Linked DNA regions of Homo sapiens: regions 1 and 2 are each linked to region 3. Evidence: fine-mapped expression QTL. A gene starts in region 3. Each other region holds a variant in brackets. All regions are shown on one strand. Distances are between the middles of the regions. Region 1 overlaps CAD (carbamoyl-phosphate synthetase 2, aspartate transcarbamylase, and dihydroorotase). Region 2 overlaps GCKR (glucokinase regulator). Region 3 holds the start of SLC5A6 (solute carrier family 5 member 6).

The links.
Region 1: its variant is fine-mapped to the expression of SLC5A6 in aorta (GTEx, PIP above 0.99). The same link has a PIP of 0.9 or more in fibroblasts, lung, pancreas, sigmoid colon, spleen and sun-exposed skin.
Region 2: its variant is fine-mapped to the expression of SLC5A6 in whole blood (TOPMed, PIP above 0.99).

What each region holds. Positions count from the first base shown.
Region 1 is chr2:27,230,982-27,241,365 of GRCh38, reverse strand. It overlaps CAD (carbamoyl-phosphate synthetase 2, aspartate transcarbamylase, and dihydroorotase), which reads right to left. Exons shown (of 44, transcript NM_004341.5): 16 at 9,786-9,898; 17 at 9,142-9,386; 18 at 8,672-8,918; 19 at 8,226-8,324; 20 at 7,830-8,054; 21 at 7,558-7,740; 22 at 7,140-7,358; 23 at 6,681-6,848; 24 at 5,939-6,121; 25 at 5,726-5,830; 26 at 4,843-5,082; 27 at 4,536-4,617; 28 at 3,821-3,987; 29 at 3,484-3,648; 9 more. Among named protein-coding and RNA genes, the nearest start is that of CAD, 19 kb to the right of the region's middle. RefSeq lists an enhancer at 8,685-9,884. The variant A/G (reference allele first, on the strand shown) is at 5,444.
Region 2 is chr2:27,518,945-27,528,989 of GRCh38, reverse strand. GCKR (glucokinase regulator) reads right to left here. Exons shown (of 19, transcript NM_001486.4): 18 at 6,396-6,530; 19 at 5,306-5,721. The coding sequence ends at 5,551. Among named protein-coding and RNA genes, the nearest start is that of SPATA31H1, 13 kb to the left of the region's middle. The variant C/T (reference allele first, on the strand shown) is at 6,920.
Region 3 is chr2:27,206,955-27,215,357 of GRCh38, reverse strand. It overlaps SLC5A6 (solute carrier family 5 member 6), which reads left to right and starts at 3,090. Exons shown (of 17, transcript NM_021095.4): 1 at 3,090-3,338; 2 at 3,825-3,891; 3 at 7,568-8,100. The coding sequence starts at 7,708. It overlaps ATRAID (all-trans retinoic acid induced differentiation factor), which reads right to left and starts at 3,317. Exons shown (of 7, transcript NM_001170795.4): 1 at 2,891-3,317; 2 at 2,060-2,181; 3 at 1-37. The coding sequence starts at 2,989. RefSeq lists silencers at 2,894-3,143, 3,334-3,653 and enhancers at 4,436-5,233, 5,188-5,247.

The DNA.
Region 1 (10,384 bases), 25 kb before region 3:
ACCATCATACGCAGTGTGTGTGCCACATTGAACAGGTGAGACATCTAAGAAAGAGCCCAAGTTAGCTAGAAAGGTCCTAGCCCCAGCTTTCCAAATCCTCAAAGCTCTGGGTGGTCCCATCCTCCCTGCCCCAGGCACCTGATCCTTGGTGAACTGCTGGACGGACAGGATATGTTGGCCCACTAATGAGTGCAGCAGGGGTGAGGTCTGGGGGTGCAGCAAGCCAGGGGTCCCCAGGTTCTGGGGAGATGCCTGTCTCGGTACTGGTGGTGGAGGGTAGCAGGTGCCATCAGGGGTTCCCATCAGCTCTGCAGTGAGGGATGGGGCAGAAAAGGCTGGTCAGAGGGTTCCTCCTACCAAGGCCAGATCAGAGGTCCCCGAGGTGAGTGTGTGTCAGGGTGGAGTCTCACCTGGCTCGGCTACCTTCCGAGAGGACTTCTCCTTTGGCTCCTCAGCTGCAAACAGGACAAGAGGACAGATATACATTTATGGCTGAGGTTTGGAAAGAAACCCCATATTCCCAGGAACTCTGAATCACAGTGTATATGTTAAACCAATTCACAACACAGTAATATAGCAGGTTAGGGGAGGGCAGGGGACTGCAGCAGCTCTGGGGACAGACAGGTGGCTTCCCATGGGGCTGTGTTGTATGGGAGCAGTGGTGCCCTCCCGGGGCTCTCCCAGTTGGCAAAGGCATCCTAGGCAAGAGGAACGGCCAGACTCACACCAACCAACAACCTGGATTTACCCCACGCTCTGCTGCCCCGTGGGATCCCAGCTCCTGGGCGGAGGAACACAGCTGCCCACAACAAAAAAGGGCATGTGAGAAGCTGTGAGATGTCTACTCACACCGGGGAGACTTGTTTAGGCAAAGGATGGCACGGCAGATCAGACGAGGATAAAGGGATGGAGAGGAGGACATGTAAGTAGAGAAAGGCGAGGCACTGGGAAGAAGTGGATCCTGTCCCTACACAGTCTCTGAGTCACAGGAACCCCACTCTTACCTGGCAAACCTGGGTCGGAGGCTCGATGGATTCGGGGCGGCAGATGGAAGCGGCCATCAGGAAGCCCTGGGATGCCACGGCGGGGTCTTTCAGGTGTCTGGAGGGATAACGTTGGCCCAGAGTTGTTTTTTTTTTTTTCTTTTGAGACGGAGTCTCGTTCTGTCGCTCAGGCTGGAGTGCAGTGGCGTGACCTTCTGGGTTCAAGCAATTCTCCTGCCTCAGCCTCCCAAGTAGCTGGGATTACAGATGTGCACCACCACGCCTGGCTAATTTTTTTATTTTTAGTAGAGATGGGGTTTCACCATGTTGGCTAGGCTGGTCTTAAACTCCTGACCTCAGATGATCCGCCTGCCTTGGCCTCCCAAAGTGCTGGGATTACAAGTGTGAGCCACCACATCTGGCCTGGCCCAGCATTTTAAAAAAATAATTGACCCAACCCCACTTCAAATTCAGTCCCTCAAGAAAACCCCAATTGTTCCTGAACCACCAATGAAAATGTTCAAGCTGTTCATCCTGCCCTGAGACTAACACCTCCCAGCCCCCTAGCCCAGTAGTGTGGATACCGTGGTCATCTCACTAGTGGCAGGGGCTGAGGGTGGGAGCTGAGGAACAGCCCCCTGTGGCCACTTCCGTACATCCTGTCCATAGCCCGGGGGTACCAGAACCTGCAGGCAGAAGGCAGGGCACTCAGGAGGGAGCAGAGAGAACTCAGGTCCTAAAGGGGTAGATGTCAGCAAGGACAAAAAGCACCTTGGGGGAGCTGTGCCCCCAACCCCTGGTCCAGGGCAGTGGTGCACATAGTGGGACAGTGTAGATGTGCTGGGAAGGGAAGAAATGAACGTGGTGCAGAAGAGGGCACTACTGAGATCAGGCAGGGGCTACTTGCGTACCTGCCCATCGATATAGGCAACCTCCCCTCGCAGGACCACACGGCGGACGGTGCCCTTCACTTTCTGCCCTTCAAAAGGTGTCCAGTGGGCCTTGGAGAAGGGCATGTGGCTGGGAATTGTCCACTCATGCTCCAGATCCACCTGCCCAGAGGACATGGGTTATGCTAGGGAAAGGATCCCCAGAGAACATATCCTAGGGCTGGAGAGCCCCCCTCCTGCTCTGGGCCTCATCCCCACACCTCCACATAGGTGTCCTCCTGCGGGGGCAGGTGAAAGATGCGCCGAGGATTGTGGTGCAATCGCTGCAGCAGGTCGTCCAGGCTGAGCCGGCCCTCGCTTACAGCCGTCAGGAGTAGTGGCAGCATGGTCTCTAACCCTGGGAACCCAGGTGGGGGCCTGGACCCACACTTCTCCTCCAAGGTATGGGGAGCTGGGAGAAAGAAAGCCATTACCCTCAGGACCAATCACCTCCATGTCTAGGAAGTCACTCACACCCCAGGACTGCACTTCCAACAACCTCCTTATGCTCACTACCACTCCCAATGCTCATTTTTTCTGGGAACTAGAAACAAGGGCAACAGGACTGCTGCCATCTTCTGGAGCCCACACTTTTACCCATGTATTCTTTCACTTGCAGTTCTACTCACTGGCTCATTCATTCTTTCAACAAGTATTTATCAGGCACCTATCACAGACCAGGTACCCTAGAGGCTAGGGTCCCATACGGATCAAGACCCTGTCCTAGTAGAGTCCTGAGGCCTGGCCTGCTTCCCATTTTCTTGCTAGGGCTGTCCCACAAGCCCCACTGGGCAGAGGAGGTACATGCTGGATTCTCTCACCATGGTCTGAGGCAAAGCAGTCGATGACAGCCATGTTCTCCCACAGGGCTTCCACATCCTGGCGGGAGCCAAGCTCAGGCCGGACCTCCCCCTTCCCAGGCCCCAGGCGCTCCAGGTCATCATGGCTTAGGAACAGGTGGTGGGGAGCCACCTCGCAGGTCACTGGCAAGCCCCGTGCCTTTGCAGCTTTAATTAGCAGGATCTGGGGAACAATGGGAAGATCCAGAAGAGGCACCACCCATATGCCTTGCCCTACACAAAGTCCCAATGGCCAACATCCCTGCTCAAAAAATGATGATGTAGACCTGCAAGGGTGCTGGCTCGAGACCCTCCTCCTGCTGTCTCCAGACTCTCCTCCTGCTGTCTCCTGCCCCTAAGGACTACCCTGACCTTTGGTGTTACTGGGAAAGCAACAGGGACAGCAGGATCTCAGGTGTACTCTTACCTCCTCCTTCCGTGCCACGTGACATATGTGCACTGAGCGCTGAGTGAGCTGAGCCACCATGAGGACAGCAGCCACGGTTTGCTGCTCTGCGTGAGCCACAATGGGGAGGTGGGAGGGCCATGTCTCGAAATGCTGGGAGCAGAAAGAACTGATGAAGGAGTGTGCAGAATCTCTGACTGTGCTCATCAGAGCCCAGAGTCCCCAGGAGCTCCCCTGAATCCTCACTGCTACCAGCCCACTTAGGCAGGGGCCCACAAGCCAGGAGACACTGGGTGGTGGCCTCCTGCCACATGCACACTCCCTACCTCCATCCACTGGACCACGCTGTCCAGCCGCAGCTCAGAGAAGGTCTCATTGAGGTAAAGCTTCAGCCCGGCTGCAGACCCGGCCACGGTGCCCAAGGTTCCTGCATTTTCAGACGAGGCCCCAAGGAATAGCGCAAAGTCGCACCGGGCGCCAGCCTCTGCCAGCTGGAGAGGATACACAGAGGTAAGGCTCACTGGCACCCATGCCCACACAGGCTAGCCTGGCACCAGTGGCCTGGGCCCATAGGGCGGGGCAGAAGGAAAAGGGCTCAGGGAAGCAAGGGTGGCTGGTAGGGGCATATGGGTCTCCAATACCAGGAAGAGTGCAGTGGCTCACCTTCTGGGCCAGGGCCAGAGCAGGGGCGTCAATGATGGGGGGCCGGGTATTAGGCATGGCACACACCATGGTGATACCCCCAGCCAGGGCAGCGGCTGTGCCTGAAGCAAAGTCCTCCTTATGTGTCCCACCTGGTTCCCGCAGGTGCACATGGACATCAATCAATCCTGGGAGAAAATGGAAGCAGCAAGATTACAGGAAGATTCAGAAATAGGAAGGGTGAGCTGGACATGGTGGCTCACGCCTGTAATCCTAGCACTTTGGGAGGCCGAGGTGGGCAGATCACCTGAGATCAGGAGTTCGAGACCAACCTGACCAACATGGTGAAACCCCGTCTCTACTAAAAACACAAAAATTAGCCTGGTGTGGTAGCACACACCTGTAATCCCAGCTACTTGGGAGGCTGAGGCAGGAAAATCGCTTGAACCTGGGAGGCGGAGGTTGCAGTGAGCCGATATCACACACCACTGCACTCCAACCTGGGCGATGGAGTAAGACTCTGTCTCAAAAAAAAAAAAAAAAAAAAAATTCCTCAGACAAGGCCACTGTGGACACTGTGGATTAAGGAATGAAAGAGTGAGAAACATTCTGGGGTCTTCACAGTCTGTGCAGTCCAGGACAAAGAGTGGGCCCCCCAGCCATCCTTCACCACACTGCAGGTCTCTATGCCAGGGGCTGCCAGTGTTCAGAAGCCAAGTTCTCCCCAAAGACTTACCCGGCAGTCGCACAAGCTTTTGGGAGGTCATACAGTCAACATGCACCTTCAAAGGAGGGGCTGGCCCGATCTGGCCTAGGGCCTGCAAGTGGAAAGCAGTCAGCTTTAAGGGAAGGGTGATCCTGGGAGTTGTAGGGAGAGATGTGGTTTTCCCATAAACCAGGCTCTGCACACTCTATACCCACCATCTCTCCCTCTGTAGCCACAAAGCTTTATTACTAGCATGGCTGTTCCATACTCACTCCTCCCTCTTTCTTCTTCCCATCAACACTGGCAGTCTCCCTCCCAGCACATGGGTCTCAGTTACCTCCACAAAGAGTTTGGTGCACTTGATATCGATGATTAGGGGCACGGAGAAGTCAGCGGCCAAGCGTCGGGTGCGGTAGCCCTTGGTGACAAAGGAAGAGAGACGCCGGCCCCCAGCTCCACGCATTGACAGGTTAATCACCAGCTCAAAGTTTTTCTCAGCTAGCTGCTCCAGGATGCTCCGCTGTGGTGGGCACTCACCATCCACAGCCTCCTCAAAGTGCCAGTCCACAGCTGTTACCTGCCAACCCGGAGTCAAGGTCAGGGCCAAGCTGTCTGGCAGCGGTCAGGAAGGCTAGCCTTAAGGGAGAGGAGCTGGCCCAGGAGCCCATGATGAGGAGACTGAGGACCCATAGGGTGGGCACTGAGGGCTGCCTCTATTTGATACTGGCAAAGTGTATTTCTTGGCAGGAAAGATATCTACACTAAGTAAGATGGGTTACCAAGGACTAGGTGCAGTATGAGCTCACACACATGTACACAGAGAAAATCCTGGAAGGAAAAATATCAGAACAGTGGTACAGAGATTTTAAGAGACTTTTCTCTTTGCTTCCTGTGTATTCTGCTTTCTGCATGGAATATAGCTTACTAGTATAATGGTA[A/G]TAATAAAAGCAGGGGAATAGGAGATAATTCTTTGTTTTTTTTTTTTTTGAGACAGCATCTCACTGTTTCCCAAGCTGGAGTGCAGTGGTGCACTCACTGCACACTCGCAGCTCACTGCAGCCTCTACCTCCTGGGCTCAAGAGATTCTCCTGCCTTAGCCTCCTGAGTATCTGGGACTACAGGTATATGCCACCGTGCCCAGCCCAGATAATTCTTTGGTGCAGTATTTTCACCCCCTTGGGGAAGGGCAGCAGTGGGGTAGGTTGCCAGAGTTCCTGCACCTTGACGCCATGCTCAGTGTAGAAGTCAGCTGTGCCGAGACTGGCATAGAGGCTGTAGCCCAGGCTCTCCAGTAGCCGCACAGTTGGGAGCAGCTCGCTTTTGTTCTGAAACCAAACAGAAGGATGAAATTGTTTTCTTCCTGTCTTCCATTTCAAGGTCAGCCCTGGCCCAGGGAGCCACGGCCCTCGGGAAGCCCTCCTGGATTCTGATACCTTATAGCTGCCAATGGTCAGCAGGATATTCTTCTTGGGGATCTTAAAGCCAGTGCTTAGCATGGCCTTGAGGTATGCCTCACAGCGGCTCTCCCCAAAGCCGGCCACCTCCCCAGTACTGGTCATTTCCACACCCAACACCACGTCAGCACCCGCCAAGCGGGAGAAGGAGAACTGAGGCACCTAAAGGGGCGGGAGGGAAGAGAGAGGGCCAAGGTGTGAGAGGACCTCCTCCCTCACCAGCAGAGACGGACACAGTACCCTGTGCTTGATCCCATCTGAATGGCAGGGTCAGCCTGCCCTCTCTGTGTGCCCTCCTGCTTTCCAAACGTACTTGGGGTCATCCCTCAGCTTCTGCTTAGGATGTGCCCTTGCAAATAAAAAACCTTAACCATCCTTCAAAACTCAATTCAAATAGCACCCCTTCGCTCAAGCCTTCCCAGATCACCCCTTTTGGAAGCAGCACCTCCTGTCTCTTGAACTCCTGCAGCATTCTGTTTACAGGTCGAATATGTAGTTTTACCACGGACTGTTCTATACCAAAGCTTTTTTGGGGATCCAACTTCTCTTCCCTCCCATTACCATAAAGTAAGCTCTTAAGGGACAATGACCACCTCATTACCCCCACGATCCGGCAATGCCTTGCAGTCAGTGCCTGGTTTACATACTGACAACTCTGTGTGGTGAGTGAACTCTCTCCCGCTATTTTTCTGCTAACCCCAAGGGTTTCGATATTCCTTACCTTTACTCCCACGACTCCAGAACCAGTCATTAGCCCCACAGGTTCCACTTCTTCCCCCATGATGACCCGCGTGGCCAAGGCTACTAGGTCCACACCCAGTGTCTTGGAAACGAAGGGGAAGGAGCGAGAGACACGTACGTTGCATTCAATAACTTTCAGCTGGTCATCCTGGGGCAGAGAAGACTGGTCAGGCCTTCTGCAGGTTGGCCTTGCTGACACTATCTATAGGCCTAGACTCTTCCTCTCCGTCCTCAGCTCTGGGGGATCAGACTGAGCAGGGTTCAGGGTCACTGACTGTCATAAGCCCCAACACCATGAGCTCTAGCTACAGCCCTTTCCCTCCAGCTTCCCTGCCTACTTGGATGAAGGCAGGAGACAGTGCAGGGCTTCATGGCACTGTGGCCAGCACAGAACATGCAAGAGCTGTGGCCCTTTAGTTCTTTCCTTTAGCCTTATTACCTTGGCAATGAGCTGCAGATTGAAGGGTCCTGTGACCTGTAGCTCCTGGCCCACAGCATGCACAATGGCTTTGATCCGCTCCAGGGTTTTGGCAGTGATATCTTGTGGGGGGGTCACCAGCGTCGCATCACCTGAATGCACACCTGCATTCTCCACATGCTCAGAGATGGCGATGGCTGCCACCACACCATCAGAGGCCACGGCATCCACGTCAATCTCCTAGCGGGGGGACACAGACAGTGGGACATAGGGCCACTTTCTTCTCTCACTTACTCTAGGATTGTCTCTTCCTTTAACGAGCCCCACATAGCCCACTGTTCCCAGCCCTGGTGCCTATGATTCTGCTGGACCAGAGAAGGAAGTCTCCTCCAGGGCTGGCAGCATGCCCTCAGAGACTTCACTGTCTGCAGCCTCCCACCTTAGCCTCCTGGATGAACTTGGAGATGACCACGGGATGCTCTTTGGAGACGGCTGCTGCGCTGCTCAGGAAGCGCTCCAGGTCTCCATCCGTGTAGGCCACATTCATAGCAGCACCGCTCAGCACATAGGAGGGGCGCACCACACAGGGGTACCCCACGGTCTGGCAGAATTGGCGAGCAGACTACAGGAGGCAGGGAGCTTAGCTGAGTTGTTCACACTTTCCCCCAAGCATCATCCAGCCTCCGGGTAACCCACCAGGTCCCAGCCCACCTCGAGGTCACTGAGCTCCCTCCACTGAGGCTGGCTGATACCAATGGTGTCAAGGAGCCGGGAAAACTTGAAACGGTTCTCAGCCGAGTCAATGGCTTCAGGGGAGGTGCCCAGCACCCGGCACTGCTGCCGATGCAACGCCATGGCCATGTTGTTGGGCAGCTGTCCACCCATGGATAGGATCACACCTTCAGGGTTCTCGAGCTCATAGATGTCCATCACCACCTACGTTGCAGGGGGAGAAACAAGTGGTGGCAGCAAAAGAGGGCAGGAATCTGAGCCTTCCTGCTCACTGCTTCCCTCAGCCGCCACCAAGTTTCAAAGAATCTTAGGTCAGCCAGCTGTTCTACTCGACCCTGGCCACTCAAGCTACCAGGAAGCCTCCATCTCCCTCACCTCAAAAGAGATCTCATCAAAGTAGAGTCGATCACACATGTCATAGTCGGTGCTGACTGTCTCTGGGTTATAGTTCACCATGATGGTCTTATATCCCATCTGCAAGAGGGAGGGGAAGGGTACTTAGCAGTCAGGTGGGAGGAAAATCGTGGAGAAAATCGTGGAGAAACTAAGCCAAAGCCCCTACTTCAGAGACTGCCAGCACAGCTTCCTCTGAAAGAGCTGTACAGGACCCCTGCCTTGGGAGGGAAGGAGGTACAAAGTGTTGGGGAAGAGATTCATATACCGTGTGGGGCATGAGAGATGGCCTAAAAGGACCCCCACCCCAAAGCTCTATGACCAAAGTAAGGGACGGCAATTAATAGGAAATGCCAGGATTAGTGCCAAGCAATTGCTAGAGATGAACAGAATAGCAAGGAAAGTGGAAAGAAAATGAACTCTCTGACCTTTCGGAGCTGCTGGATGCAGCCTACAGCACACCAGTCAAATTCAACGCTAGAGCCAATACGGTAGACGCCAGAGCCAAGGACTAGGACATGAGGTGTTCGAAAGGTGAGGTCATGGGTGGTGCCCCAATACGTTAGGTATAGGTAATTTGTCTGGGCTGGCCACTCAGCTGCAACTGTGTCAATCTGTTTCACTGCTGGACAGATCCCCAGTTCCTGACGCAGCTTGCGAACAGCCAGCTCTGTGCTAAAATAGAAAAAGGGTCTGAAACACAGGCCCAGAGAGTAGGGTACAGACTGATAGAGGGTTGAGACCCCAGGGCACAGATGAGAGGAAATATCCTTGGAACCAAGGTCAGAAGCCTCTAAAGCTCTCCCACACTCTCCTTCCTCCCTCCCAAGGGTCCCTCACTGATACAAAGGTTCTGCCCCACATTTCCCAGCCGGAAGCTCTCATTGCCACCTCTGACCTCAGAACTGCAAGGGCAATCTGTTTGTCTGAGAAGCCAAGACACTTGGCCTGTTGCAGCAGGTCTGGCGGCAAAGGCTGTCCACGGTGTTGTTCTAGCAGCTGGGCATGTGCGATGATACGCTTCATTCGGTGCAGGAACCAGCGGTCGATGCGTGTGAGCTCATACAGGCGGTCCACTGAATAACCAGCCCACAAAGCAGCTGCCACCACAAAAATCCGCTTATCTGTTGGAGTCTCCAACTCCTGATAGAAAGGGGGTAGACAGACGGAAGCTACTGCCAGCCCATCTAAAAGCCTGAGCGTAAGTAGCTGCTCTTGTCTCAGGAAGGGGAAACTGTACACCAGAGCACAGGCTGTGTAACTGCAAAAACCTGGATACCAATCCTGGGTCTACCTCTCATTGGCTATGTGGCTTTGAGTAATTTCTATAACCTATGTCTCAGTTTCCTCATCTGTAAAAACAAGTCTAGTAATACACCCTTGCGTGCTAATGAGACATCTCAAAATTCTCAGCAAAGTGGAAACAAAGCAAATGTCCAATGATGACTGCTGCTAGTGTTACTGGTAACAAGCTCATGGTCTGGGGGCGATGAGAAGCAGGGTCTATTTTAGGGGTATTGCCAGGGGAGGGGAGCTACTTACCATATCGCTGACTGGTTTCACTGTGTGATCAAAGCCCACACAGTTCTCATCCACCATGCGCAGGGCCTTCTGGAAGGCCTCCTCAAATGAACGCCCAATGCCCATGACTTCACCTGGAAGAACAGAATGGAAGGAATGAAGGTGTGGAGGTGGAAGGGGTGGGAAGAAGGCACTGCCCATAATGCTTATGGTTTATAGTCAAGACTCTGGGAGATTCTCAAGGCAAGTCACATGATGGTGGGATTCATGGTGTTTCACAACTAAGAAATCTTAATGGCCGGGCGCAGTGGCTCACGCCTGTAATCCCAGCACTTTGGGAGGCTGAGGCGGAAGGATCACGAGGTCAGGAGATCGAGACCATCCTGGCTAACATGGTGAAACCCCGTCTCTACTAAAAATACAAAAAAATTAGCCGGGAGTGGTGGCGGGCGCCTGTAGCCCCAGCTACTCCAGAGGCTGAGGCAGGAAAATGGCGTGAACCCGGGAGGTGGAGCTTGCAGTGAGCAGCGATCACACCATTGCACTCCAGCCCGGGGAACAAAGCGAGACTCCGTCTCAAACAAAACAAAACAAACAAACAAACAAAAAGAAATCTTAAC
Region 2 (10,045 bases), 310 kb before region 3:
GAAGGTGAAGCGGAAGCCAACATCTTCTTCACATAGCAGCAGGAAAGAGAGAGAGCACAAAGGGGAGAGTGCCACACACTTTTAAACCATAAGATCTTGTGAGAACTCACTCACTATCATGAAAACAGAATGGGGGAACTCCACCCCCATGATCCAGTCACCTCCCACCCGGCCCCTCCCACAACATTGGGAATTATAATTCAACATGAGATTTGGGTGGCGACACAGAACCAAACCATATCAGAGATCCAATTTTCCCAGCATCATTTATTATAGAAACTGTCTTTTCCCCAATGTATGTTCTTGGTACCTTTGTCAAAAACGAGTTCACTGCAGGTGTGTGAATTTGTTTTTGAGTTCTCTATTCGGTTACATTGGTCTATGTATCTGTTTTTATGCCAGTACCATGCTGTTTTCGTTACTATAACTCTGTAATGTAATTTGAAGTTAGGTAATGGATTCCTCTAGTTTTGTTCTTTTTGCTCAGGATAGCTTTGGTTATTCTAGGTCTTTTGTGGTTCCATATAAATTTTAGGATGTTTTTGCTATCTCTGTGAAGAATGTCATTGATATTTTGATAGAGATTGCATTGAAGCTGTAGATTGCTTTGGGTACTACGGACATTTTAACATTGATTCTTCCAATCCATGATTATAGAATATCTTTCCATTTTTCTGTGCCATCTTCAATTTCTCTCATCAGTGTTTTATAGCTTTCATTGTAGAGATCTTGACAGGTGCAGTGGCTCAAGCCTGTAATCCCAACACTTTGGGAGGCTGAGGCAGGTGGATCACAAGGTCAGGAGTTCAAGACCAGCCTGACCAACATGGTGAAACCCCGTCTCTACTAAAAAAAAAAACAAAAAAACAAAAAAACAAAAAATTAGCCAGGCATGGTGGTGTGCACCTATAATCCCAGCTACTCAGGAGGCTGAGGCAGAAGAAACGACTGGACCCGGGAGGCGGAGGTTACAGTGAGCCGAGATCACACCACTGCACTCCAGCCTGGGCAACAGAGCAAGACTCTGTCTCAAAAAAAAAAAAAAATCACATCTCCTTCAAATAAGGATAATTTGACTTCTTCCTTTCCAGTTTGGATGCCCTTTATTTCTTTGTCTTGTCCGATTGCTCTAGCTAGGACTTCCAGTACTGTGTTGAATATCAGTGGTGAAAGTGGGGATCTTTGTCACGTTCCAGATCTAAGAGGAAAGGCTTTCAGTTTAAATTTATTTTTTGAATAAACTTTTTATTTTTGAAAAATTTCAGGTTTACAGAAAAGTTACAAAGATAGTACAGCAAATTCCCATATATATTTCACCTAGTTTCACCTAACATTAACATCTTACATAAGTTTGGTACGTTTGTCAAAACTATGAGATTAACATTGGTATATTTACTATTAACTAAACTCCAGATTTCATGCAGTTTCACCAGTTTTGCCACTAAAGTCCTTTATCTTTCCAGGATCCAACCGAGGGTAGCACCCTGTAGGTGAGTCATGCTTCCTGAGTCTCTTCTGGTCTATGACAGTTTCTCAGTCTTTTCTTGTTTTCCATGACTGAAAATTTTCAGGTATTTTGTAATATGAGCAGGTATTTTATAATATGTCCCTAAAGCTGGGTTACTGTGATGTTTTCTTTATGCTTAGACTGAGGTTATGTGTTTGGGGGAAGAATACCACAGAGGTGACATGCCTTTCTCATGATATCATATCAGGAGGTGCGTGATACCTGCTGGTGATGCCCATCTTGATTACTTGATTAGGGTAGTGCTTGCCTGGTTTCTCCACCGTAAAACCCATTCCCTTTCCCATACTCTGTTTTTTTGTAAGTGAGCCCCTAAATCTAACCCACATTGGAGGAGAGGTGGTGTGGGATGATTAAGCTCCATTTCCTAAAGGAGTGTGTGTGTGTGTGTGTGTGTGTGTGTGCGCGCGCGTGTGTGTTTATTTAGAATTCTTCTTTAGGAAAAATTGGTACTTTCCCCCACTTTATTTATTCAATCATTTGCTTATAACGGTACGAATTCACGCGTACTCATGTATTTTTTTAAACCAAGTGTTTTTTTTAATTTTATTTATTTATTTGAGACAGGGTCTCATTCTGTCACCCAGGCTGGAGTGCAGTGGCATGATGACAGCTCACTGCAGCCTCAACCTCCTGGGCTTAAGAAATCGATCCTCCCACCTCGCTTCCCAAGTAGCTGGGACTGCTGTCGCCTACCACCATGACCAGCTTGTTACTTATTTTGTTGCTCAAATTGTTCCCACTTTAGGCACTAGGAGCTCTTTCACATTGGCTCTTGTATCCCTTTGACATATTGTCATCCTTGTGGAGGTTTTGAGCAATTCTTTACTTTCTGTGACTACAAGATGCTCCAGGGATCCTCTTCCTGTCTTTTTCCTTGTCTTTTCCACAGCACCCCAGTTACTAGCTTAAAAATGACCCACTTCTCTCTCCCAGGATGGGAGCATTTTGCATCACCTAGATATAGTACCTGTCCTCTCAACCCTAGGATTTGACTCACCTGTCCAATTGGGTCCAACCCTAAGTTTCCATTGGATCTTAGGCATTTTGCTGTATTTGTAGAGCCCATCCCTGGAACCAGATGGAGACCCCTCTGTCTCCTACCTGGTCCCAACATCCTCTTTCAACGTTATAGCTTATCTAATATTCAAGAGCTGGCTCCAGGCTGTGTAACATTCAAAACAATCTGAATGTTAGACCGGACGAATGTTGGCCAGGTGTGGTGGTTCACACACACGATCCCAGCACTTTGGGTGGCTAAAGCAGTAAGATCACTGGAGGCCAGGAATCAAGACCAGCCTGAGCAACATAGCAGGGCCCCATCTCTACAAAAAAAAAATTAAAAATGAGCCAGGTGTGGTGGTGCACATTTGTAGTCCTAGCTACTCGGGAGGCTGAGGCAGGAAGATTGCTTGAGCCAAGGAGTTCGAGGCTGCAGTGAGCTATGACCGCACCACTGCACTGCAGCCTGGACAACATAGTGAGACACTTTCCTTAAAAAAAAAAAAAAAGAGAGAGAGACCATCTAAATTATGAAAAGAATAGCTAGCTAGATTTTGGAGACGAGTTCATGAGTTCCATATATATATATGGATATATATTATATATTCCATATATATGTGTGTGTGTGTGTGTGTGTGTGTGTGTGTGTGTGTGTGTGTGTATAACGTCAGGCTTAGAGTATGTGCGATATCCAAATATATTTTGTCCCACCCCCTCTTGTTTTTTTTTTCTGTTTTAGAGCCAGGGTCTTGTAATGTGGCCCAGCCTGGCCTTGAACTCCTGGACTCAAGTGATCCTCCCATCTCAGCCTCTCAAGTAGCTAGGATGGCACACCTAGCCCCCTTTTGCTTTTGATCCAGCAAATATATGTGCTGGGAAATTGTTTTCTTCATCTTCCACAATCTAATCCAGTCTTCAGGCCCAGGCCCTTTAGTCCTTTCTACATAATTACTGCCTTGTATTAATAATGGATTATTCTCTTGCTGTTTTTGCCCTCAGATGTTTACTTTCTCCAAATAACTGCAAAAGTTGTCACCCTATCATTTGTGTCTGGATAGTTCTAAAAAAATCTTTGAACTTCTTTAGCTCTGCCTGGAGCACAAATCCCATTGACAATGACCAGATTCTCTGCTATCAGATCCATATCCCAGTGTGAATCTTCAAACCTTCTTGCGTTTTCTTTGGCTGTTCCTTTACCCCACCCCAGCCTCCTTTCTTCCAAAACTTTCCTTGACTCTTGGCCTACCCTGTAATTTCAGCAGCTCTCTGTACTTATCCCGCTGTTTAATCCACTTCAACTCTGTCTTGTATTCTAATTGCTATGTGCTTGTGAGTTTCTAGGGGGTAGGCATCAGATCTTAGTCATCTTCATCTCTGCCACAATGCCAGAGTGTGTCTAGCTTCTAATGTCCCCCAAGGCTATCCCACAATATTCATAATGTCCCACAATAATGTCCCACAATATTCATAATACCTGAATATTGTGTCCAACTACATAAGAATTGAATTCACTTGATGTCTTCATGCCATCCACGTACTTGGCAACTAAAAGAACTCAGGGCTTCTAGAGTTCTTCTGCATCCAGCCCTGGAGAAATCTAACCCTGTGCCCTATCCCCTCCAAATGTGGGAGGGGAGCTACTGTACAGTTGGCATCATCAACAGGATCAAGGGGTGCTCTGCCCTTTGGGGTCCCAGAATGCTAGGTATCTTCTCAGACTTGACACTGTTCATGACACCATGCTGAGAGATGAACTGACCCGATGAAAGAACGTGGTAGAGAGTTGTGGGTGAAGAGAAGCAGAGGGACTTTGCAGGAGCCTTTCCTAACTTTAGCCATCTTGAATTTGGGAGAGGTGTTTGTGGAAGATGAAAGGGGTGGTACTCAGGAAGCATCGTGAGAGTAGTGGCTGGGGAAAGGGGGATTACTGATCATCCAAGGCATCAGTGTGAAGATGTGGAACAGGAAAACAGAGCTCACATAGAGGCTGCAGGCCCTCAGATGCACAGAGGGGCCTATGGCCACCTTAAAAAGGTTGATTACTCTATCCTCATAAAACCAAAATCTGGCTCCTTTGCAGTCACCCTCCTGCCTAAAAGTTCCAGGGACCTTTCCAGAGAGTTTCATCCCCAGAGGAATGTTCCTGAGTATCTATTACCTGGATATTTCTCAGGCACAAGGAGGAACCAGCTCTCTACTGTCAGGGCCATATATCACAGGCCCTAAAGAGCTGGCATGAATCTAGGATGAACAAGGGTGTCTTTGATTTGTCAAAACATGGGGTAGCTGATGTCTAAAATGTACAGCCCGGGGTTTCTAGTGTTTGTTGGGTCCCACCACCAAGGGCTTTCAGCACCTCCAGAGTTCCTTATGTTCCTCTTACAAACACGGGGCAGGGGATGTGACCCTCATTTCATGGTCTAATGCGTGGATGTAGCAGTCATTCTAGATCTTGTCATGTCTGATTAAGACTGCCCTTTTTCTGGGTTTCCTATGTTAGGTACACAACTTCTTCCCTCTTCCCCTGGAATTATCTAAAAGTTCCCACCTCTCATTGTGTGTCTGTGTGGGATTGGAGTGTGTGTGCACGCATGCACACGTGGCTGCATGTTGGTAATGAAAATATAGGGATGCCAGTATAAGGCTTGTGTTAGGGACCAATGAAATGGAGTTGGGGACAGAATTAAAGAAACAAATCTGCTGTTAAGACCAACCCATGCCACCCATCCTATCCCACCTCTGATCTACTGTTTGATTTACTGACTTTGAAAGGTTAACTTTCCAAAATAAGACATTTCATTTTATTTCTGAAATCAGAATAAGTCGGTGAGAGTAGAAACCACTAGGTCGAGAGCAAGAACTCTCCCCCAAAGTGGAGAGAATATTTCTCCCTACCCTGGGCTGCGGATGCCCTGGAAACGGGGCTTCTTCCTCCCACATGTTCTGCTGGCACAAGTCCCCTTGGGCGGGCTGGGCTGAAGTGGGCAGGGTTGGGCCCCTTTCACCCACCCAGAAACATGGGTTCACTGAACGTCAGGCTCTAGGATCTCGAGGGGGTCCGCAGTGCGCTTCTGACCTGGCCCAGCAAGAGCACTCCTGACAGCCTCACAGACAGAAGGAGCTGCAGCCAGGTGTGCCTGAGCCTCAGTGATCGAGCACCGGAATAGGAGGCTCAGCAAGGCGATGGGTATCACCTGTGGGGAAGAGGCAGTGGGCACTGAAGCCTGAGGGAATGAGGTCATCAGAGAAAGAACCCCGGAGGAAGGTCGGGCGCAGTGGCTCACGCCTGTAATCCCAGCACTTTGGGAGGCCGAGGTGGGCAGATCACTTAAGTTCAGGAGTTTGAGACAAGCCTGGCCAATATGGCGAAACCCCATCTCTACTAAAAATACAAAAATTAGCCAGGCATTGGTGGCTGGCACCTGTAATCCCAGCTATTTGGGAGGCTGAAGCAAGAGAATCTCTTGAACCCGGGGGCAGAGGTTGCAGTGAGCCGAGATCGCGCCACTGCACTCCAGCAGCCTGGGTGACAGAGCAAGACTCTCTCTCAAAAAAAAAAAAAAAACAGAACCCTGGAGGAGTTAAAGCATTTGATACAGGAATCAGGAGCCACTAGGTTAGATGCAAATAGGATGTTATTAAGATTAGAAGGTGGTAACAAGGTGGATTAAGAGCAGAAAGAAACCTTCACTTTGACCAGGAAAACTCCTATTCATCCTTCAAAACCCAGTCCAAAGACCCCATGAATGTGGAGGTCCTTGTGAGCAGAGTGCCACTGAGCTTTGTAAACCCAGTGCCGAACAAACTTCCTGACACACTGAAAGTACTCAAAAAGTATTTGTTGAATGACCAGCAGTGGGCAGGATACCTGTTCCTTCTCATGTGCAACCTGGACATGGCAGGAGATGGGAGCAGCCCGAATATCATCTGACAGTGGCTGGGGAAAGTGGATCGCTCGGAGGAGGCTCTCGATGCATCGAGCCTTGGACTGTCCAGAGAACCGCTAAGGAAGAAGTGGTAAGATCAGTGTCAGGCTAAAGGCCAGAGGAACTAAGAATGGAGTCAAGGGAGAAGAATAAACTATGAGAGTGAGAGGCTGGGATCCCGAGGCCTGGCTATAGAGGCTGTAGATGATTTGTCCATGTTGGCAATCCTAAATTGTAATTCCCAGGTGTAAAGAAAAACTAGGTTAAAGGGGTTGGTGGTGGGCTTGACTGGCTGGGTTAAACTGGAGGATTAATGGCAAATTGCTCAAATTTGCATGTGTGTCCCACCAATCCTGTAGGTTGGTAATCTGGACTCCCTCTCTCTAGTTTCCTCTGTAACCAAATCCATCTTGCACACTAATGTAAGACTGTTCATCTGCAAACACTGCTTCCATTTTGTCACTAC[C/T]CTCCTCTCTGTCTAGCTCAGCATTGTCCAGTAGAAATATAATGCAAGGCTGGGCACAGTGGGTCACACCTGTAATCCCAGCACTTTGGGAGGTCAAAACAGGAGGATTACTTGAGCCCAGGAGTTCGAGACCAGCCTAGGCAACACAGCAAGACCCCATCTCTACAAAAAATAAAACAAATTAGCTGGGCATGGTGGCACCTGCCTATCGTCCCAGCTACTCAGGAGGCTGAGGTGGGAGGATTGCCTGAGCTCAGGAGTTTGAGGCTGTAGTGAGCCGGATGGTGCCAATGCACTGCCCTCCAGCCTGGGTAACAGCGTGAGACCCTGTCTCTAAAAAAAATAAAAATAAAGAAAAAAATATAATGCAAACCACATATGTAAGTTTAAGTTTTCAGTAGCTGCATTAAAAAAAGAAATAGGTGAAATTGGCCAGGCACAGCAGCTCACACCTGTAATCCCAGCACTTTGAGAGGCTGAGGCAGGTGGATCACAAGGTCAGGAGTTGGAGACCAGCCTGGCCAATATGGTGAAATCCCGTCTCTACTAAAAATACAAAAAAAAAAAAAAAAATTAGCTGGGTGTGGTGGCGCATGCCTGTAATCCCAGCTACTCAGGAGGCTGAGGCAGGAGGATCACTTGAACCCAGGAGGTGGAGGTTGCAGTGAGCCGAGATCATGCCACTGCACTCCAGCCTGGGTGACAGAGTGAGACTCCATCTCAAAAAAAAAAAAAATGTGATTTCACCTATTTCTCCTGACCTTGTGATCTGCCCGCTTTGGCCTCCCAAAGTGCTGGGATTACAGGTGTAAGCCACCACACCTGGCCTGAAATCAATTTTAATAATATATTTTATTTAACCCAATATATAACCCAATGTAAACAATATTAAACATTATTAGTCAGATATTTTGCAATATTTTTCTATATTCGGATTTTGTATTTTGAAATCCAGTGTGTATTTTGCAACTAGAGCACACCTCAATTTGTTTTTTTGTGGCTTTTTTTAATTTTAATTTTATTTTTTGAGAGATAGTCTCACTCTGTCACCTAGGCTGGAGTGCAGTGGCACTATCTTGGCTCACTGAAACCTCCACCTCCCAGATTCAAGCTATTCTCCTGCCTCAGCCTCCCTAGTAGACAGGACTATAGGCCTGTGCCAACATGCCCGGCTATTTTTTTATTTTTTTTATTTTTAGTAGAGACGGGGTTTCACCATGTTGGCCAGGCTGGTCTCGAACTCCTGACCTCAAGTGATCTGCCTGCTTCGGCCTCCCAGAATGCTGGGATTACAGGCGTGAGCCACCGTGCCCAGCCAGCCCACCTCAATTTGGGTGCTAGATTTGCAATGCTAAAAAGAGAAATGTAGTCCTACCAAAATATTAAAGTTACATTTAATTTAAAAAGTATACAGCTTTGGTTTTTACATAAAATTAAAAATTCAGTTCCTCAGTCACATTAGCCACATTTCAAGTGCTCAATAGCCACATGTGGCTGGTGGCCAATGTTTTGGACAGCGCAGGTCTAGCTGCATTTGGCAAAGTCCAAATTCCTGCCTGGCTTTAACCTCCCACATCCCTCCCCTTCCTACTTCTTCACAATCCCTCACTGCGCTCTAAAGTGACTTGCCACTCTGGTTAGACCTGTGTCCCTCACATATCATGCCCAGTCCCCCTTCTGGGACTTGGTGAATGACCTAACAGGAATGCTCTTCTGTCCACCTATCCAAGCCATAACCACCAGGCCTAGCTCAAAATACCACCCCTTCCATGAGGCCTTCTTTTTGCTATAATGCATTCTGACCCCCACCTTCTTTATACCTCCACTGGACTTCAGTAAGGACCATAGTTTATTTTGGGGACCTGGTGGGTGCTCACTAAATGTTCATTGATTGATTCCTTTCACATAGGGTTGCCAGATTTTGTGAATAAAAATACAGGACATCCAAATATATAATGAAAAAAATCAAAAATATCTCAAATATTGCATAGGGCATACTTGATGGAAAAATTATTCCATATTTATCTGAAATTCAAATTTAACTGGGCGTCCTGTATTTTTATTTGCCGAATCTGGCGACCCCATTTTCATGACCATCTGTTGTGCCGTCTGCTCAACATCCACTCCTTCTGGTATCAGCACCTTGGTTTTCCTCTGAGGATCTATCGCTTCCCCATGCTCAGGTAATGAGGTTGGATTGAGGCTCACCTCCCAGCCCTTCTTCCACCACCATCCTGAAGGGAAAGCACATGATCCAGACTGGGCAGAGCATCCCTTGCTCTGGAGAACAGTGATTGCTTCAGGGACATGCATGTGTCCCAAGCAAGAGCCCCCAACCAGGCATTTGCAAGAACCACAGGACAGGCAAGCTCTTTGCCCACTAGTGTTGCTACGTAAATTGTCAGGCTGGCACTACTGGTGGCCAGTTTGCCACCTAATGGAAAAAACTTGCCTAAGAATGAGAGCAACGGCCGGGTGCAGTGACTCACGCCTGTAATCCCAGCACTTTAGGAGGCTGAGGCAGGTGGATCACCTGAGGTCAGGAGTTCGAGACCAGCCTGGCCAACATGGCAAAACCCTGTCTCTGCTAAAAAATATAAAATTAGCTGGGCATGGTGGGGGGTGCCTGTAATCCCAGCTACTCGGGAGGCTGAGGCAGGAGAATCAATGGAACCTCAGAGGCGGAGGTTGCACTGAGCTGAAATAGCACCGCTATACTCCAGCCTGGGCGATAGAGCAAGACCCCATCTCAAAAAAAAAAAAAGAATGAGAGCAACACAGGGGAAAACAGAGTTAAGGGTGGAAAGTTCTGGAACACATTAGATTCAGCTGCCCTAAGATTGTTCAGTTATATCAGCCACCATTTTCTTTGTTTAGCTTAAACCAGTATAAACTCGTTTTCCATCACGTTTGTAACTGAAAGAGTCTTGCCTAATAATTACAATTTCACAAACACACCCATGTGTGCACACACACTCCTTAAGGGGAAGATGCACCTAATAGGAGGAGCAGAAGCACACAGAAAAGGCAGCCTGTACCCTTGCACATTTCCATATCTCTACAAAATGCCCTCCTCTGGCAGCCTAAGCATTGAGGCCAGGTCCCACCCAACCCTGCCCCATCATA
Region 3 (8,403 bases):
ACCAGGGTCCTCCAGAGAACAGTTCTGGAGATCCAGCCTGAGGAAATAAAGTAATCAATATAACTGTGTGTTCCTCTTTTTCTTCAGCCACGGCACAGTTTGTATTTGACTACACAACCCCCTTTTCAGCTAATAATTGAACACAGCTGTGTTCAGAGTCACACACTAGGAGCTGTGGTAGACATTTTAATTCTGCATTATCCAATAGAATCGCCACTTGCCACATGTAACTACTTAAATTTAAATTAATGTACCTTAGGCTGGGTGTAGTGACTCACTCCTGTAATCCCAGCACTTTAGGAGGCCAAGCGGGGGAGGATCACTTGAACCTAGGAATTCAAGACCAGCCTGGGCAATATGAATGAGACCCTGACTCTATAGAAGAAAATTAATTTAACCTAAAAATTCAGTGTCTCATTTGCACTAGCCGTATTTCAAGTGCAAATGGAATAACCACGTTAGTAGCTACTGTACTGGTTAGTACAGATACGGAACATTTTCCTTTTTTGAGACAGTCTTACTCTGTTGCCCAAGCTGGAGTGCAGTGGCACGATCTCGGCTCACTGCAACCTCCATCTCCCGGGTTCAAGCAATTCTCCTGCCTCAGCCTCCTGAGTAGCTGAGATTATAGGCACATGCCACCACGCCTGGCTAATTTTTGTATTTTTAGTAGAGACGGGGTTTCACCATGTTGGTCAGGCTGGTCTTGAACTCCTGACCTCGTGATCCGCCCATCTGGGCCTCCCAAAGTGCTGGGATTACAGGCATGAGCCACCGCGCCTGGCTCGGAACATTTTCATAATCACAGAAAGTTCTATCCGCCAGCACTGTTCTAATCGGTTATGCATCTATTGGGAGAAATCTGTGTTTCTTGTCTACATTAGTGAATCTCATATTATGATTTTCAGATCCACAGAGGGCCTTTAAATTAAAAAAAAAAAGTCACATAAATCAAAGTTTTTTTCCACATGTATTTTCTACCACAGATTGGTTGTAAACTGCTGGACATTAAGGATCATGCCACGTTATTTTTTTCTTCAATATCTACTGCTATCCATTCCTTTATTCTACAAATATTTACTGAGTCCCTACAAACTGCAAACACTGGGAGAATGTTAAAAATATGTAACACAGTATTTTGGCCTTTGAGTGGCTTACAATGTAGTTAGAGGAACAAGAGCACTGCCCAAAAATAAAAGCACTGTAAACATTAAATTACAATATAAAAGAAACCACAGGACAGTGTATAAATATATTTGAGTGGACACTAAAGATTACAGGAAGTTTTTAAAAAAGGTATTACTGAATCGCTTGAACCCAGGAGGTGGAGGGCGCGGTGAGCCGAGATCATGCCATTGCATTCCAGCCTGGGCAACAAGAGTGAAACTCCGTCTCAAAAAAATAAATAAATAATAATTTAAAAAAGGTATTACTCTGGAACTTAGTAGTAGTAAATATTCACAAAAGATGTTGGAATTGAAGGATGGATATTTCCTAATTTGGTAGAGGAAGGCAATTTCAGGTATGGAGAGAGGCCTGAACAAAGGTGGAATGCCTTTGAGGGCAGGCAAATCTGGCTGGTGCAGACCATTATGGAGGTTTGAGCGGACAAGTAATTGGAAATAATGTTGGAAAAGTGGGTTGGGACTAGTATGGTACTTAATGGTTTGAATTTTGTCCTGAGACAAAATTTAATACTAAATATAGTATTAAAGCAAGAGAGTGATAATGGAAAATGTTGGTTTTCTAAAAGCTTAATACAGAGAAGTATTTAGGTAGATGAAGGAAAGAAGAGAATGGAAGCAAAACATAACATTTTGAGTTTGAAGTTAGGGTGCACTCAGTAGGAAATGCTTAATAGGAAGCTAGAGGTACCCGTATGTACCTGGAGTGTGGAAAGGTTAAAAAAGACACTAAAGAGATCTAGTTTTGGTAGACATCTGCGTGATGATTACAGCTGAAACCATAATAGGTGGATTCTTTAAATAATATAAGGGTATAAAAGCAGCCAGGCTAAGGAATGGCCTGTATCCAGCATCTAGGGATGTCTTCCCCTCACCCCAAGATGGTGCCCTTCTGATTCAGGCAGCAACGGGCATGCAGCATTAGCTCTCGTGTCGTTTTACAATAAAAGGCCACTTTTGACAAATTTTGCACGCTCCCTGGACATTGGGTGCATATCTGCAGAAGAGAAAGAAACATTAGAACTCCAGAAAGAAAAGCCAAGAAAAGAACAAACGGCGATCAAGAATTAACTGCCAGTACACGTTTCCAGAATTCCTCTAACACGGGGCCGATAAATGGATAAACGGCTCGTGTCCCACCCTTGTAACAGGCTAGGCTAGGAGATGCCATCTCTTCCTCCAGAGTCCTGCGCCGAATCAGCTCCCGACACTTTCAGTACCAGATATCGCACAGGGAAGGTCCTCATCTCTGAAGATCACTATTCGAACTTATTTATTATGCTTTCTGCAGAGACTTCTCAATCTGACAGCCCTAGTTTGGCGCGGTGTAAAACGACCGCAGGTACGTAAAGAACTCATCAAGCATTACAAAAGTACAGCCCTACCACCGCACGATATATGGCGTTCGTGCGTAGAGAGATTACACAAGAGGCAGAGGACCCGTCTGTAGAAAGAACTTAAAGTTATTCTAAAATTAAGGGGCGAAATCAAGTTTCACAGGTCTTTGAAAGTCGGCAGGACTGGGGCGCCGAAGGCCTGCACGACGTGAGTACTTGGGAACAGGACCTGGCTGGGCAGGGTCGGGAAGCGTCAGGGACGAAATCAGAACCGCAGGCCCGCCGAGGAGAAGGGGGAGCCGCTGGCGAGCGCGACGCACGGCTGGCCAGCGACCCTGCTTCAGCCCGACCTCAAACTTGCTTCTGTACCTCGGGTAGCGCCAGAGCCCTTTCCACGCCCAGAGCGAGGAGCAGGGCGGCAGCCCAGGGCACCAGGGTCGTAAGACTACCCGGGTCGTGAGGCGCCATTTTCCGTTCCCTTGGTGCTCCGCTGCTCGCGCGACCCGGCCCCGCGGCCCCGCCCCGCAGCGCGTCAGGCCCTCTTCCCCGGGCGTGGCCTAAGCGGCCCGGTCCAGTCGCCCTGGGGCTGCTTGGGGGCTTTTCCTGCTCGTGGAGCTCTGCGCTGGTCTTCATGCGCCCTAGCCCTCTTTCGGGGATACTGGCCGACCCCCTCTTCCTTTTCCCCTTTAGTGAAGGCCTCCCCCGTCGCCGCGCGGCTTCCCGGAGCCGACTGCAGACTCCCTCAGCCCGGTGTTCCCCGCGTCCGGACGCCGAGGTCGCGGCTTCGCAGAAACTCGGGCCCCTCCATCCGCCCTCAGTAAACATGGCGGCACGGCGAGCGGGGCGGGCAGGGGGCGGGCAGGGGGCGGGGCCCCCGCGGGCTCCCGGCCAGGGCTCTCGGCCGGGCTCTGGCTACCCACGTGTGGAGACCGGGCAGGTGGGCCTGGAGAGCGTGAGCCGGTGCCGAGAGGCACCGGGGAGCGGCGTCTGAGCCGGGGCGGGGACAAGGGGGCGGGGAGGGGCGGAGCGAGCCGGCCTCCGGCGTGGGTCTGAGATCTTAAGTGCGAGCGGTAAGGTGGTGGTCTCCGCCGCGTAGAGGGAAGCGGGAAACCGAGAAAGAACGAGGGTGAGGGTGATGAGGGAAGGGCAAACCTCAAACTCCAGCGGGAGGACACGAGCCTGGATCGCCCCGGGCACCTAGTCCTCTTCACCTCAATGCTGATAGCGCATAGCGTCCCGGAGCCTGGCGAGGAGGTAGGAGCGGGATAGACGCTTCCCTAACTCATTTTCTTTGCCTTCCCAGGAAAAGGGAGCGATGTTGATCTCAGGAAGCACAAAGGGACCTTCCTAGCTCTGACTGAACCACGGAGGTAAGGGAGTGCGTTGCTGCCCCAGGGTGGGCCAGCGCCCTGACTGAAGGGCGCCAGGGGATCCCTGCTCCCGGCGCGACAGTGTTGGTTAGGGCCAGCCAGAAAGCTCCTTAAAGCCGACCCAAGTGATCATCTCGAGTAGCCGAGCCAGGCTTCCCTTCCACATTACCCCCATGGTGTCTGCCTGGAAGTTCCTGAAAGGTTTACGTTTAGCTGGCTGGCAAATTTTCTAAGGTGTTAGTAGCTATTAGCATTTTAAGGAGGGCCCCCAAAGCCTTTCACACCTTGAGGAATTATAGGCCCCAGGACAGATTTTGAGGGAATCTTTTTGGAACAGTTAGTCCTGCAGTGGTCTCATTGCCTTTTGTAGGAGTCAATGCGATCCACTGCAGTGTGTGACCAAAGTGAGTTCAGGTTTTTATTTTTATTTTTATTTTTATTTTGAGACGGAGTCTCGCTCTGTCGCCCAGGCTGGAGTGCAGTGGCGCGATCTCGGCTCACTGCAAGCTCCGCCTCGCGGGTTCACGCCATTCTCCTGCCTCAACCTCCCGAGTAGCTGGGACTACAGGCGCCTGCCACCACGCCTGGCTAATTTTTTGTATTTTTTAGTAGAGACGGGGTTTCACCGTGTTAGCCAGGATGGTCTCGATCTCCTGACCTCGTGATCTGCCCGCCTCGGCCTCCCAAAGTGCTGGGATTACAGGCAGTGATGTGGGACCCCTTTTAAAAACCTGAACTTGGCCTGGCGCGGTGGCCAGGCCACCGATCCGCCAAGGCAGGTGGATCGTCATGTCAGGAGTTTTGAGACCAGCCTGGCCAATATGGTGAAATCTCGTCTCTACTAAAAATACAAAAAAAAAAAAAAAAAATTAGCTGGGCGCGGTAGCACATGCCTGTAGTCCCAGCTACTCAGGAGGCTGAGGCAGAAGAATCACTTGAACCCAGGAGGTGGAGGTTGCAGTGAGCCGAGATCGTGTCACTGCACTCCAGCCTGGGCGACAGAGCGAGACTCCGTCTCCAAAAAAAAAGGGGGGGGGGTCCCACAATCTGCTGTTTGTGCCTTGGCATGTTATAGTTGTAGTGAAACAACAGCTAGCTCTTGCTTTTGGCCGCCCTCTTTCTGGAGAGATGCGAGACCATAGCGTTTGGATCAATGTAGGGTGTTTAGAAAACTACAGATCTGTTCTCAGAATCTGGTCTGTTGCTAGGTCAGGTTTTTCCTGTCTTCCCTGGGGCTCTCTCAGGCCATCCAGGGGAATTCTCCATACATCATGCAAATAGAATTTTATCAGGAAGTCCCATCAGCAGAGTGTCTTTATTTCTGTACCTCCGTGTCCCATACTGGGACTTTCCTTCCTGTCTCTGGCCACCTACCTCTCTAAACCACTAACCCTATAGTTAGTTCTTTGTTCTGTGTTCTTTGCACACAGGAGACCTCTTCTTTCCTCTTACTCCCCAGTAGTTCCCATCATCTCTATCATAGCAGTAAAAACTTGCCAAAGACGAATGAGAAAACTCAGGGTGTTGCAATGTGCAAAGGCCCAGGGCATGTTTAGGTTAAACCAGAGTTTAAGCCTGTTGGGAATCTTGTAGAACATGTGATCCAAGAGTTGCCAGGTCTGATTTTCCCTCTTTATTGGCCCCAAGAGGTTCAGAGTTCAGGTTTAGTCTGCATGAGGCCATATCTTGCCAGCCAGCCAGTGTCTGCCCAAGAACACACTGTGGGAGAGCGGAAAGGCAGCCTAATCTTTCTCCTAGTGGGCAAAAGCAGAAGACATAGTTTATGTTAGTCTGTCTCTTGATTAGTTGAAATCTAAACTATGTCCTGTGAATGACTGACTGCAACACTCTGCTCCTGTCCTGGTTCTGGGAATAGTGAGGACAGGGCCCTTGCTGAACACCTGTCATAGCTGCAGACAGCACTGTTTCTCTCTCTCTTGTTTTGTATCATGCTGCATAACCTTGAGCAAGTTATTTAATCTCTCAGTTTTCTTGTGTTAACTGGAGAGTATTCGTGTCTTAATCTGAGACATGCTGTTTTGAAAATGTTAGCTTCATTATGTATTATTACTAATGTTTATAAAGCACCTCACACACTGCTGGGTTACATAGCAGGTGTTCAGCAAATGTTAACTGTCGTCATGTTAGGCTGTGTAACTACATGGCATTCTCTGGTGTTTTTTCCTCATACCAATAAGTACCCCAGAGGATTGCCTTTGAAGACAATATGATACGCTTGGAGAACAGACAGGGTGGATGGTGAATCCCTAGACCTGGGTTCTAATTTATGCTCTGACAATAGTCGGCTCTGTGCTTTTGGAAAGGTCACTTGAACCATCTGAGCCTTAGCGTGTTTATCTGTGAAATCGTCAGTGGTGGGGGGTTGGTTGTAATAGTGGTGTCCAAAGATTTAAGATTTTAAATATTATGATCCCTTCCCTCTTTCTCTGAGGATTGTGGTGTATTCTTGGGGGATTAACATTTCTTGTGCAGGAGTTAGAAAATCAACTTTCAACTTTCCCATGTTTTCAGTTCCTTCTTTCCAACTCCCTCCCGCACAGAGTGCCAAGAGTACTTTAGGCTGAAAGGCTAATCCATCTAGGAATGCTGTTGAATATGAGCTCCCTCTTCCCTGTTCTGGAGCCTCTAGGGCTGAGTTGGAGTTTGGGGGCCATAGGGTGATAGGGCCATTTGGAACACAGCCATTGGTTCCCTGAAGGGGCCAGAACAAATGACTGCTGAGCTTCACCCCACCCCCAATTCCTGATCTCTCACCTCAGCTACTCATAGAGCCAGATCCTCAGCTCTGCAGCTCCAGGCAACTCTGCCTCAGAACAGGGATTGCTTCTCCAGGTAGGTGTCTGTCCCCAGCAGGATACGACCACTCTCTTTGGCTGGTCCCTTTGCCTCTCAGCTCCGTGACTGGGTTGCTTCTCTCCAGAATGGAGAATCGTCATTCTGAAACCCTGACTCCAGCATGGTGCCCTCTCACCTTTCCCCTCTCACTTTTGAATCCAGCCGCTCTTCCTGCGTCTGCTGTTGACTGTGATGTTGCAGGTAGAGGGGCTGAGAGGTGGGTGGCAGCACTTATCTAGTGGTGTTGGGGAGAACCTTAAGAAAGGGGTTGGCCTGGGGACGCCTGAAATGGAGTCTGTGGCTGCCACAGAGGCAGTCTCACTGATGATCAGTTAGAAGGGTGACACTGGGGATCACAGGAGGCGAGGGCCGAGGCCAGGGGCAGTAGGGGAAGCCCTGCTGCCATTAGTCTCCATGCTGTGTTTCCTGCTGGGCTGTGGCGCCAGGCTGGGCTCTGCTGGCTTAGTGTATTGTAGTGACTGGGTCTGTGCCTTCAAGTGGGGCTGGGAAATTCTGCTAAGAAACTTAGGCTAGAGTTTATTTTTCTTTTGGTACTCGGGTGGAGACCTAAGAAGGTTGTTGAATTTCACAGCTGTGCATACTCAAAGGTCCTGGCCAAGTTATATTGTCTCCTGGCTGTCGCACTCTGATGCTTCTCCCTCACTTATGTCCCCTACCAAACCCATACCAGGGCCTCTAGACCTTGAAGGGCTACCACTATGCTGGCTGGTCCACTTCTGATGGCATGCGATGTACAAGGCCCAAGGGTGAATGGCTACCAAGGCCAGATAGGCCTCACTAAGAGCTAATTCCTTTGCAGCTCACCCTGGACAGTATCACTCCGTGGAGGAAGACTGTGAGACTGTGGCTGGAAGCCAGATTGTAGCCACACATCCGCCCCTGCCCTACCCCAGAGCCCTGGAGCAGCAACTGGCTGCAGATCACAGACACAGTGAGGATATGAGTGTAGGGGTGAGCACCTCAGCCCCTCTTTCCCCAACCTCGGGCACAAGCGTGGGCATGTCTACCTTCTCCATCATGGACTATGTGGTGTTCGTCCTGCTGCTGGTTCTCTCTCTTGCCATTGGGCTCTACCATGCTTGTCGTGGCTGGGGCCGGCATACTGTTGGTGAGCTGCTGATGGCGGACCGCAAAATGGGCTGCCTTCCGGTGGCACTGTCCCTGCTGGCCACCTTCCAGTCAGCCGTGGCCATCCTGGGTGTGCCGTCAGAGATCTACCGATTTGGGACCCAATATTGGTTCCTGGGCTGCTGCTACTTTCTGGGGCTGCTGATACCTGCACACATCTTCATCCCCGTTTTCTACCGCCTGCATCTCACCAGTGCCTATGAGGTGAGCAGGGACAGAAGGGAGAAGTGCGTGGGACACGGGTTGGGGTGGAGAGGAGGGACAGGCACATAGGAAGGACCTGGGACCCTAGACCTCCTCCACCTAATGAGAGGGACAGAAAACTCATTGTGTGTTTATAATTCTTTCTCAGTGATGTTAGGTATAGGGGCAGGATTGGAGAGGAGGGTGCTATGCCGAGTAGGACTCAGAGTGGGTATGGGTTGGATATTCCCTCATGTTCCTGAGCATCTTGAGGGAATTTGTCTGTGAGTTGTCGGGGTGAAGTCAGGAGAAAAATCTTTTTTT